Linked DNA regions of Homo sapiens. The protein of the gene in region 2 purifies or fractionates together with the protein of the main gene of each other region. This does not show direct contact. Each region holds a gene or a part of one and is shown on either strand. Other genes may lie near its edges.

Region 1 (4,443 bases), on a different chromosome or scaffold from region 2:
TCACCAAACACCAGATCTGCCAGAGCCTGGATCATGGACTTCCCAGCCTCCAGAACCGTAAGGTGAACCTTCCTTTTGCTTATAAGCCAACCAGCCTGCAGTGTTTTGTTATGGCAACCTGATGAATGAAGACAACTGTCTTTTTTCCAGTCACTCGGAACTGTTTGCTGCCGTAGAAACCGTACCCTGCTTTCCCACACCTGCCCTCTCTCTCAACACCGTAAGCCCCCAGCCTGGCTGCCCCTTTCCTTCTCTCACTCTCTCACTGCCCATCCTCCGGAAGCTGGCTGAGCGGGGACACCCACCCGTGCCCCGCTGGTGAACAGGTTCGTCCCCTTGTGCTTTGGATACTCTGCAAGTTTCCTTGTCAGAGCCCATGACCCCCTCCCCGACATCTGCACTTGTTTCCGGACTGTCCCACAGCCAGACCTCAAGTCCCTGTGACCAGGACCTGGGTCTTCACCACCACTGCGGCCCTGTGGGCAGTCAGTCCTTCATGGCCAAACCATGACTAGGAAGGTGGTCCTGGTCATGGTAATGTCAACGGATCAAGAAAGCTGAAACTCATTGTTGCCTGTGGAAGGGCCAAGCCTCCTGTTTCCCTTAATTTTGCCCCACGTCAAGTGTCTTCTATCCAGGCTAAACTCACACATCACAGGGTGGCCACCTTCCTACAACCACTGTGGGTGGTCCTTCTGCAGGAGGCACTGAACGATAAACCCAAAAGGGACTCAGAAGTCAGGTGACTCAACCACTTCATTGCACAGACTTGGCCACTAGCTTCCAACCACCCAGCAAGTGTGTGAACAGACCCGAAAACGGGGTTTTGGCAATGCCCAGTGCAGAGCAACATGGGGGCCTAGAAAGAGGGTCTCCACATTTCTGCTCTATTTCCCTTGATTTACCTTCATCATGTTTTTTTCCAAGGAAACTGTGTCTCTCTCCACTGTCACCTGCACACACTTTTTCTCAGACTGCATTCATGATTTGGCTCATACCAGTCTTCAGTGCAGAATTCCTTTAATTTCTTCTCTATGCGCCCAGGTCCCACCATTCCTTAAAGGAGGCTTAGATTGCACATTTCTAAGAAACATCCCCCCAGCCTCCAGCTCTGAGGCCCTCTGTCCCCTCGCTCCTGGGACACAGACTCTCTGGCATTGTTCTGCCCCACAGACATTGACTGACTCTTAGGCACTAGTGCTCCAAGTAGCTTACAAGAAATTTCAGTTGACAAATATTTGTAGGCAATCCTACATCCTACTTAATACCTTGTGCTAAACTGGCATTCCCCAAACATTTGTTCCTTGTTTTATTTTTTTTTTCCTCATCCCATTTATCCACCTACCATACATCAATCTTTGCTCATGAAGGAGTCTCAAACAGACAGTGGTGGCATTATGATGTAGCTGTGGCAACAGTATTTGGAAGATAGTTGAAAAGAGATGAGAGGAGGCAAGCGCCAAGAAGAAGCTGGCGAGGAAGCAGGAGGAAGCACCTGGAAGCCGAGTTTCCTTACCCATGAGAACAGGCAGCATGAGAGGAGCTTGGGAGGACACACTGCACCATATCAAGGTGTCGGCCTTCCTTTTCCTCCTCCTCTTCCTCCTTGGGCATGTTATGGAGAAACCCCAGGGACAGTGACTCCACCCGATGACAGTTCTCAATGCAAAAGGAAGAAACCATGTGGTCCATTCTGGTGGAGAGATTGATCTCAATCTTGGGGAAATAGTCCATGGCCCTTTGCACGAAGTCCTCCTCCTGCATCTCGTACAAACAGTAGAACAATTCCAGCTGGCTGGGCTGGATCTGCAGCTTTTTAGCTTTGGCTTTCACTTCAATCCATTTCAGCAGCTCCAGCCTGATTTGCTGAGAGATCTTGCAACTTAATTTCTTCTCCAAGTAGGAGGTCCTCTCCTGGTTTACCAGGCCAAAGAGGAAACGTACAACAAAAATCAAATACCCCTTTTCGAATTTGCCATAGTTTTCCAGAAGGACTGTCACGTCTCGGCTGGGAAGCTTCAAACGACTCCCTGGAACGTTCGTCCTTCCTTCCTTTTCCTCTTCCAGCAGGTAGTACATGGCGGCAAAGAACTCCTGGAAAGTCATGTGGATGAAGCTGTAGAACTTCTCGCAGTCCACTTCCTTTTGGAACAGGTTCATCCTCAGGAAAGCAGACACATCCGCCTTCTGCAGTCCATGATTCCTGAGGTCGGACTCCTCAAACAGGATTTTCTGGTTCCAGATTCCATCTGCAGCCAAAGAGCAGAGCCCCCAGAGGTGGGCGCAGAGGCCGTGCTCCTGGCTCCCTCCCCGGGGCTGCAGCAAACTGGAAAGGAAGAAGACGTACACCGCGGTGGTGGTCTTGGATGTCTGGGCAAGGCTCTTGCCACTCTCCATCTGCTGTTTCAGTCCAGTGCACACGATCCAGCAGACCAGGGGGATGAAGCACATGGTGAAGAGGACCTCGTTCTCCTGAATCAGACTGAAGGCTGCCCTGGCTTGGGCCTCATCAGAGAAGTACTTGAAGAAGTACTCTTTCCTTTTGGCCTCGGAGAAACCCAGGATCTCCACATGCCGAGGATGGTCCAGCAAGTGCTGCAGTTTCTCCAGGGCCACAGGTCTCGTGGTGATGAGCAGAGAGGCCTCGGGAAGCAGCTTCTTTCTGATGAGGCTGCTCAGGAGAATGTCTCCCCGCTCGGCCTTCTGCCAGTCAGTGCAGAGCGGTCCTATGTGCTCGTCAAAGGCACCTTGCAGCTCATCGAAGCCGTCCATGAGGAAGAGGATTCTGGAGGGTTTTCTCACGATCTTGTGGATGGGTGGGTTTGGGTCGGGGCAGCAGCTCATGATCAGGTCCCCCAGGCTCCTCTGTGTCACAAGGCTCACCTCTCGACAGTGGATATAGAACAGATAGTCAAACCTGTCTTGGTAGAGTGTCCCCGACGCCCAGTCCAACATCATCTTCCTGGCCAGGATTGTTTTCCCAATCCCTGCCGCCCCCTGGAACACCACGGTGTGCACAGGCTCAGAATGCTCATCATCGGGGTCAAACAGCAACTCCATCTTAATGGGACTCACGGGGCTCTCACACGTCTTGGTCTTGCCGATGGCCAGAAGCTCCTGCTCCCTCTCCTGCTGGCTCCGGTGCTCCTTGATGAGACGCAGTCGTGTGTAGCGTTTGTTGAGGCTCACACTCTCACCCAGACGGGCATTCCTGTCTTCAATGCACTGGAATCTGCTTCTCACGTACTTTCTGTACTTCTTACGGTAATCTACGGCAAAGACAGGAAGTTAGGGGGAAAGTATACACACATCCACCTGAGATGCGCTCTCAGCTGGGGCCTGTCATCGGAAGCGAGTGGTAACCGGAATGGAGAAATGGAAGGTGCAGCTCCTCCCCACTGGGTAGGAAAGGTGCCGAGAATCTCTGGTGTCAAGTTTTTAAGATACACAGCTGAGCAGAAGGCCCATCTCTATGTGTAGCTACCAGCCCAAAGATCATTTGAATCAATCTTATTCCTTTAAGTAATCTGCATCCTATGCCTTATCAAACTTGAAACGCTTAATCACCGCCGCTGGCTCTGGGACTGCAAGAGCCACACAAACATGAATTTGTTTCTTCAACTGACAATGGATTTCCTGAGACAGGCCTTTGCATTCCAAAGAGCAGGAACCTATAGTATGGCCAAGTTACCCAGCTGCTCAGCTTCCCAGAGCCTCCTGAACCAGGTCTTAAAACTCAACTAGAAGCACCACCCCAGTCGCTTACCTTTCTTCATTTTACAAATAGAGATTCTCGAAAGGTACTCCAGTAAACCCATCCACTCCTCTTCAATGCTGTCTTCCTGGCATATCACAGTGGGATTCGAAACACGTGCATTATCTGAACCTAAAAGGGAAAAAAAAGGTGTCAAAACCCAGAACTATTATCACAGAGGATGCAATTGAAACCTGGCCTAATATTTGGCATGAGAGAGGAGACCCCAAACATCCCCCAAATCAAAACATGGCTCTGAGTTGCAGAGGACAGGTATCCAGTCAAAAGTCTGGTTGGGAGCATTTCTGCACTCCTAGTTTCAAAACAACTTCTGCTGTCCACCTGCCAAGCATGTGTTCCCACTGTCCCCAGTCTCAGAATCTCTTCCTCAGGCCTGGAAATCAATCAGCAAACATGCGAAGCAGGCTAAGTTTCTTTTACCCTCGTTTGCTTTTGCCTGCCCCTGGCAGCCTGATTGTGAGGGCATCTCCAAGCTCTCCTATATCCCCAACACGGCTGTGGGCTAAGAAAGGTCACCCTTCCCTGACCGCAGTTCCCTGCAATCCATTTTACACACGTCTTCTATTGTCAAGTCTAGATGTCTGGTTCTTCAAGAGTGAGAACGACCAGTCTATTTCGTGCCTAATCTAGTGGTTGGGAATCCTGGCTGACTTTAGAATCACCCAGGA
Region 2 (5,387 bases):
CTTGACCTCAGTGGCTCAGGAAACGAGATAAGATGTGTGAAGGAGGTGGCTGTGGTCGTTACTGTTCGGGTGCTGCTTTTGGGAGGAATGTGAGAGCAGGGATTGGGAATGATGGGGACCACAGGCCCAGGCCAGTGGTTGCTGGAGCCCCTGCCTGTGCCTATCTCCCATGCCCTCACGGCTGGGCACCCACCTTCCGGCCTTTCTCGTTGTTGGGTAGATAGCAGTGGCGAGGGAATCCTCTTGCGGTGAACTTCTTCCCGGGGTTGGGGTGCTCAGGGCCCTGCAGAGAGGGACAGTACAGGGATTTAGACCATGAACAGGTGGTGGCAGGGTGGAGAAGCATCTGGAGGAGTTGGAGGGGTGTGGGGGCTGGGGGCCAGAGAGGCGGAAGGGGAGCCCACCTGGATGCCTGTGGGGATGTCATAGACGATGCGGATGGTCTGGGTATCAGGGAAGCCGGGCAGCGAGTGGGGGATGAGGTGGAACTCCATCTTCCCAGGCGGCTGCGTACCCGTCTTCTCCCCGTAGATGGCCTTGCAGGTGGGGCACTGCAGGCTGCCATCCTGGGCAGGGGAGGCTGGCAGTGAGTTCCCAGCACCCCCCCAAACCCCACTCCGTTCCCTGCCCACTCCTCAGCCATTGTCCCGCCCAACCCACCTTGTTGCCATTGGAGTACATGGCCACGAGGCACAGCAGGTGGTACATGTGGCCACAGCGGCCCAGGCGGCCCACGAGCTCAGGCCGCACGCCCTTGTGCCGAAGCACGCCCTCGTAGCCTGATGCTGTGACCAGTCGCTCCATGCAGATGGTGCAGTCCTGCAGGTGGCAGCAGGGGAGACTGAGGACTGGGGAGGGCAGGGCACCTACTGGGTCAGCACTGCCCCTTGGTGGGTCACCATAGGCAGCAGACCACACTCTCTCTGGTACCCATTTGGCAAAGGGAGACAGGACACACCCTCTGCCCCATACATTGTTTTATTTTCTTTTCTTCTTCTTCGTTATTTTATTTATTTTATTTATTTATTTTTATTAAGAGACAGGCTCTGTTGCCCAGGCTGAAGTGCAGCAGTGCAATCATAGCTCACTGCAGAGTCAAACTCCTGGGCTCAAGAGATCCTCCTGCCTCAGCCTCCTACGTAGCTGGAACTACAGGGATGAGCCACTGCACCCAGCCCCTTCCCATATATTGAATTCTGATATATCACAGAGGAAGATGGCTCCCCTCACCACCCCCCAGGTGAATTAAGGGCTTAACTATCAAAAGCAAAACTTAAAAACATTTAGTGGAAAATATGGGTGAAAATGACACAAAAACTCAATCATCAAAAGATGGATAAATGTGAGTCTATTAAACGTAAGTATTTCTATTCATCAAAAAACCTCATAAAGTGAAGAAAGGAACAAACTAGAAGAGCTCTGTATCACCCAGAACCCAGGAGGAGGGGTGAGGGTTCCTGCCCCCTCCATGCCAGGGCCCTCCCCCAGCCCCCCCATCCCCTCCTCACCTCATCAGGTGGGTTTTTCACCTTCTGCATGTATCTTCGAACCACATCCTCGGGATTCTTACCTGCAGGGACACAGCGGGGTGGGTTTGAGGGTACCCAGAGTCTGTCCCCGAAGGCTTGGCTCAGAACTGGGTCAGGGGTCAGAGGGCAGGGGTCAGGCTGGCAAGGGTTGGCCGGGGTCAGGCTGGCAAGGGTTGGCCAGGGTCAGAGGTCAGGGGTTGCTGGAGGTTAGCTGTAACAGGAGCTGGTGAAAGATGGGGCCAGGGCAAGGGGAGCTGAGATCAGGCAATGGAGGTGAGGTAGTAAATGCTAAGAATAAGTTGGAGACCAGGGGTCACAGAGTTGTGGTCAAGGCTTAGTGGGGTTCATCTCGTGTGAGGCAGGGCGTGGAGGGCGTACTCTTTTTAAGGTGCTTCTTCTTGGTCTTGCGGCACACCCCGGGCACGCCAGGCACGGGCTTCACGTCGCTCTTGCTCACGGGCGGCGGGTGCAGGATGGGCTTGGGGGCCCGCGTCAGGCACACGGGCAGCCCGGCCGCGCACAGCAGTATCCCGGTCATCCCTGGGGGTTAGGGGGCGCAGTCACAGGGCGGGGCGCCATCCCCGCCCAAACCCCCGACCACTGGCCCTGGGAATCCCGGGGCCCTCGGGTGGGTGGGAGGGTTGCGCTCTTGGGCCCCACCCACTCAGCCCCTTGAAGGCCCCTGAAGGGCCTTTCTGCGGGCCACGCCCGCCCTGTGTCCTGGGCCCAGTGGAAGGGGGCGTTTCCTCCGGGCCACGCTCACCAGCCCATCTCGGGGGCGGGGTCACCGGGTGACAGGCGGAGCTGCCTCCTAGTGGGCCCCGCCCTTCTTTCCCGCCCTGGGCCAGACCTCACCTGCCAGGGCCGGATGGACCGGCCCAGTACCATTCAAGTTCTTCACCGGGAGTGCGGGGACCCTGCGGGGAGAAGAGAAGAGGCCGCAGCTGGACTCCAGCCCCCGAAGCGACGTCAGGGGACCTGGCTTGCCTTCTGTCTCTGGCTCCTGGGCCACACACCCTGGCCTCTTTGTACCTCTCTGCCAACTGCAGTTACCTCCAGGAAACTCTCTTTCTACTCTGACATCCTATTATGGGGCGGGGGTGGCCAGGACCTCCGCCCAGGTTCCAATGGGATGCACCCTTAGACTTTAGTGCAGACACCTCCTTACCCTACAGCCGGCTCCTCCCTCGAGAGGGCGCTTTGGCTCTGAGGGCTCCTTTCGTTGGCCGCTGTGCCTGAAACCCAACTACTAGTGGTGTAGCTATTTTAACATCTCTCAAAGCTTGTTAGATGTAGCATTATTAATTTCCATAAAACGTTCCAGGAAAGAAGGATTCAGGAATCAAGTAAGTTAGGAACACGTCACTGTCTCCCTCTCTGAAATTCACAACATATCTGAGCATATTAAAGGCTCTGACAAGCCCTGCGTAAGAACATATCATTAACAATGATAAGTCCAGGTTTTCAAAAGCATTTGGTGATGAATTTTTTTTCTCTTCTGGAATATTTACTGATGTCAGTTTCTGTGACAAGGTACTATCCTCTCTTCAAATGAAGAGCCCCTAGGAAAAGGTATCCTGACTCTCCTCTTCCTCTGGCCCTCAAAAGAGCTTTGGCTTTTGGAGTCAGCCAGAGCTGCTTTCATATCTCAGTTCAACCACTAATGAGCTGGGCGACACACAGCACATCATCTCATCTCTTGTAAGGGGTGGTCTGTAAAATGGGGACAATATGGTACCTTTTTTTTTTTTTAATCTGCTGTGAGGATTCCGTGAAATTATATGTGTCAAGGGCCAAGCACAGTTCCTGGTACCTAACAGCTACTAAAAGCACAGCCATCGGTATCATCACTGTCAGCTGTGCAATCCTGGCCGAGTAATTTCACCTCTTTGCTTCCCAGGCACTAAGTCCTGGTGTAACTTCTCTCCATCTTAGAGAGGAAACCACAAAACTGCTGCAGTGACAACCTTGAACAAGTCACTTAACTTCTTGATCCTCAGTTACCTTATCTGTAAAACAGGCATATTAACACCTCACTTATAGTCGTTGGGAGGACTGAAGGAGAGCTTGCGGTGATGTGTACAGTGTGTCTGCCTGAGTCCTCCTGACTTCAGCACCTGTTTATGCAGGGGAACTGGTGTCTTGCTGTTGATGGGCATGGAACCCAGGCTGGATACGTTCTGATGAAGAGGGGTGTTCTGAAATCCAGGGGTCAGCCTGAAGGCCTTGGGGGATGTGCCAGGAGAGGGGGCAGGAAGGGCTGGGAGCAGTGACAGCTGGAGAAGGAGCTGCAGCAGCCCCCTTGGCTCTGGCCGTGCCTGTTCAGGTCACAGCCTGTCTAATGCTGTCTGGTCACCTGTCCTTGGCAGGCACAGTTGGCACCAGAAAGCATCTTCAAGCAAATGGTGCCCTTGGCAGGCTTGGGTACTGCTGCAGTGGGTGCAGACACACAGACATACACACCCAGGGCACACACCATCCACACAGATCCACAGATCCAAATATACACACATGCATGGAGAAGACCACACAGACTTATCATACTCCCCGGGACACATTACACACACATGTTTAAGTACACAGACACACAAACACACACAACCCAGGGAGTACATCACAGATACATGCACACACAGACACACAGATACCAGGGAGCCTCCCTCCCCATCCGTCTACTTGGGGAACATACCGCACACACTAGGGAATGCACACCATGAACATATACATGGATACACACAGGCACACTTCAGGGCACGCCCCCCACAAACATACATGGATTAAGATACACACACACTCACATATTCCAGGGAATGCCTCCCCACACCTACATACAGAGACTTGTGCACACACGGGGACACACACATACACACAGAAGCACACACAGCTCTCCCCTGGGAGGATACTCCATTGGACAAGAGTCGGTGGCTCATGTAGACCAGTACCGCACCTGCTACTGCCGCCCCTCTCCCCAGCTGCACAGAGCTGGGTAAGGTGGGCAGCAAACCCAGAGGAGCATGCGCTCAGCCCTACAAGCCCCCGGCGCGCTGCAGCCTGCAGAACGGCCTGCCGTCCACACGCGGACACACGATTCCGCACCGCCTGTGGGGAAGTACTCGTGCGTACTGATTCACATCATGCATGGGGGCGCAGGAGGACACGCTGACTCACTGCACACGAGGACACATGCGCACATGCTCTGACCCACACCTCCTGACACTGACACACAGACACTCAGCCTGGGAGGCCCACACCTGCACACATGCAGAGGCACAATCACACATGCACACAGGTGCAGCGCACACACACCCACTTGGTGGCTGCTCGGCTATACAGGATAGTATCACGTGGCCAGGACTCCCATCCCAGACCCCTCTGAGGGCTGTGGAGAGGTCTGGAGCAGACATCTGGATTGAGCCCCTTGAGGAGGCGCCGGTGTGATGGAAGTCAATGAACACAGCTCCCGAGGGAGGCAGGATGGGATGGCGGGTACCCTGGGTCCCCCAGGACCTGGTCAGTGGAGGTGGGAAGAAAGCACTGTGCCTCAGTTTCCCCACCTGTAATGGGGATAGAGTCCTGTGAAAGTTAAATGTGCTAAAACATGTAAAGCTCATCATTTGGCGCAGGGATGAGAGTGGAGGTGTCTTGATTTTCTTGTCGGGCACCCTGCGGGGGGGCCCCAGGAAGAGGGGCACTGAGTATTCATTTGACCCTTCTCAGGGTCTGTCATAATCCTCCAGGGCCTTCCTCAGGGGGGCAGCTGTCACCACTCTAACTTCCTCCCTCTCTATACTTTTATAGGAATGCATAGAGGCATTTCCCTCAAGCTTTTCCTCTTTCCTGCCCATTCTTCAAGCACCT

The links. Proteins that work in one complex are often made in the same cells at the same time.
Region 1: the proteins of DTX1 (region 2) and NLRP3 purify together in Homo sapiens (affinity purification with western blotting; one study listed by BioGRID). This does not show direct contact.

What each region holds. Positions count from the first base shown.
Region 1 is NC_000001.11:247,422,673-247,427,115, reverse strand, and holds part of NLRP3 (NACHT, LRR and PYD domains-containing protein 3), read right to left. Parts: intron 3,887-4,443; coding exon 3,767-3,886; intron 3,270-3,766; coding exon 1,517-3,269; intron 1-1,516. UniProt on the Homo sapiens protein: Sensor component of the NLRP3 inflammasome, which mediates inflammasome activation in response to defects in membrane integrity, leading to secretion of inflammatory cytokines IL1B and IL18 and pyroptosis.
Region 2 is NC_000012.12:113,090,221-113,095,607, reverse strand, and holds part of DTX1 (E3 ubiquitin-protein ligase DTX1), read right to left. Parts: intron 2,447-5,387; coding exon 2,385-2,446; intron 2,070-2,384; coding exon 1,908-2,069; intron 1,571-1,907; coding exon 1,509-1,570; intron 820-1,508; coding exon 661-819; intron 567-660; coding exon 405-566; intron 284-404; coding exon 194-283; intron 1-193. UniProt on the Homo sapiens protein: Functions as a ubiquitin ligase protein in vivo, mediating ubiquitination and promoting degradation of MEKK1, suggesting that it may regulate the Notch pathway via some ubiquitin ligase activity.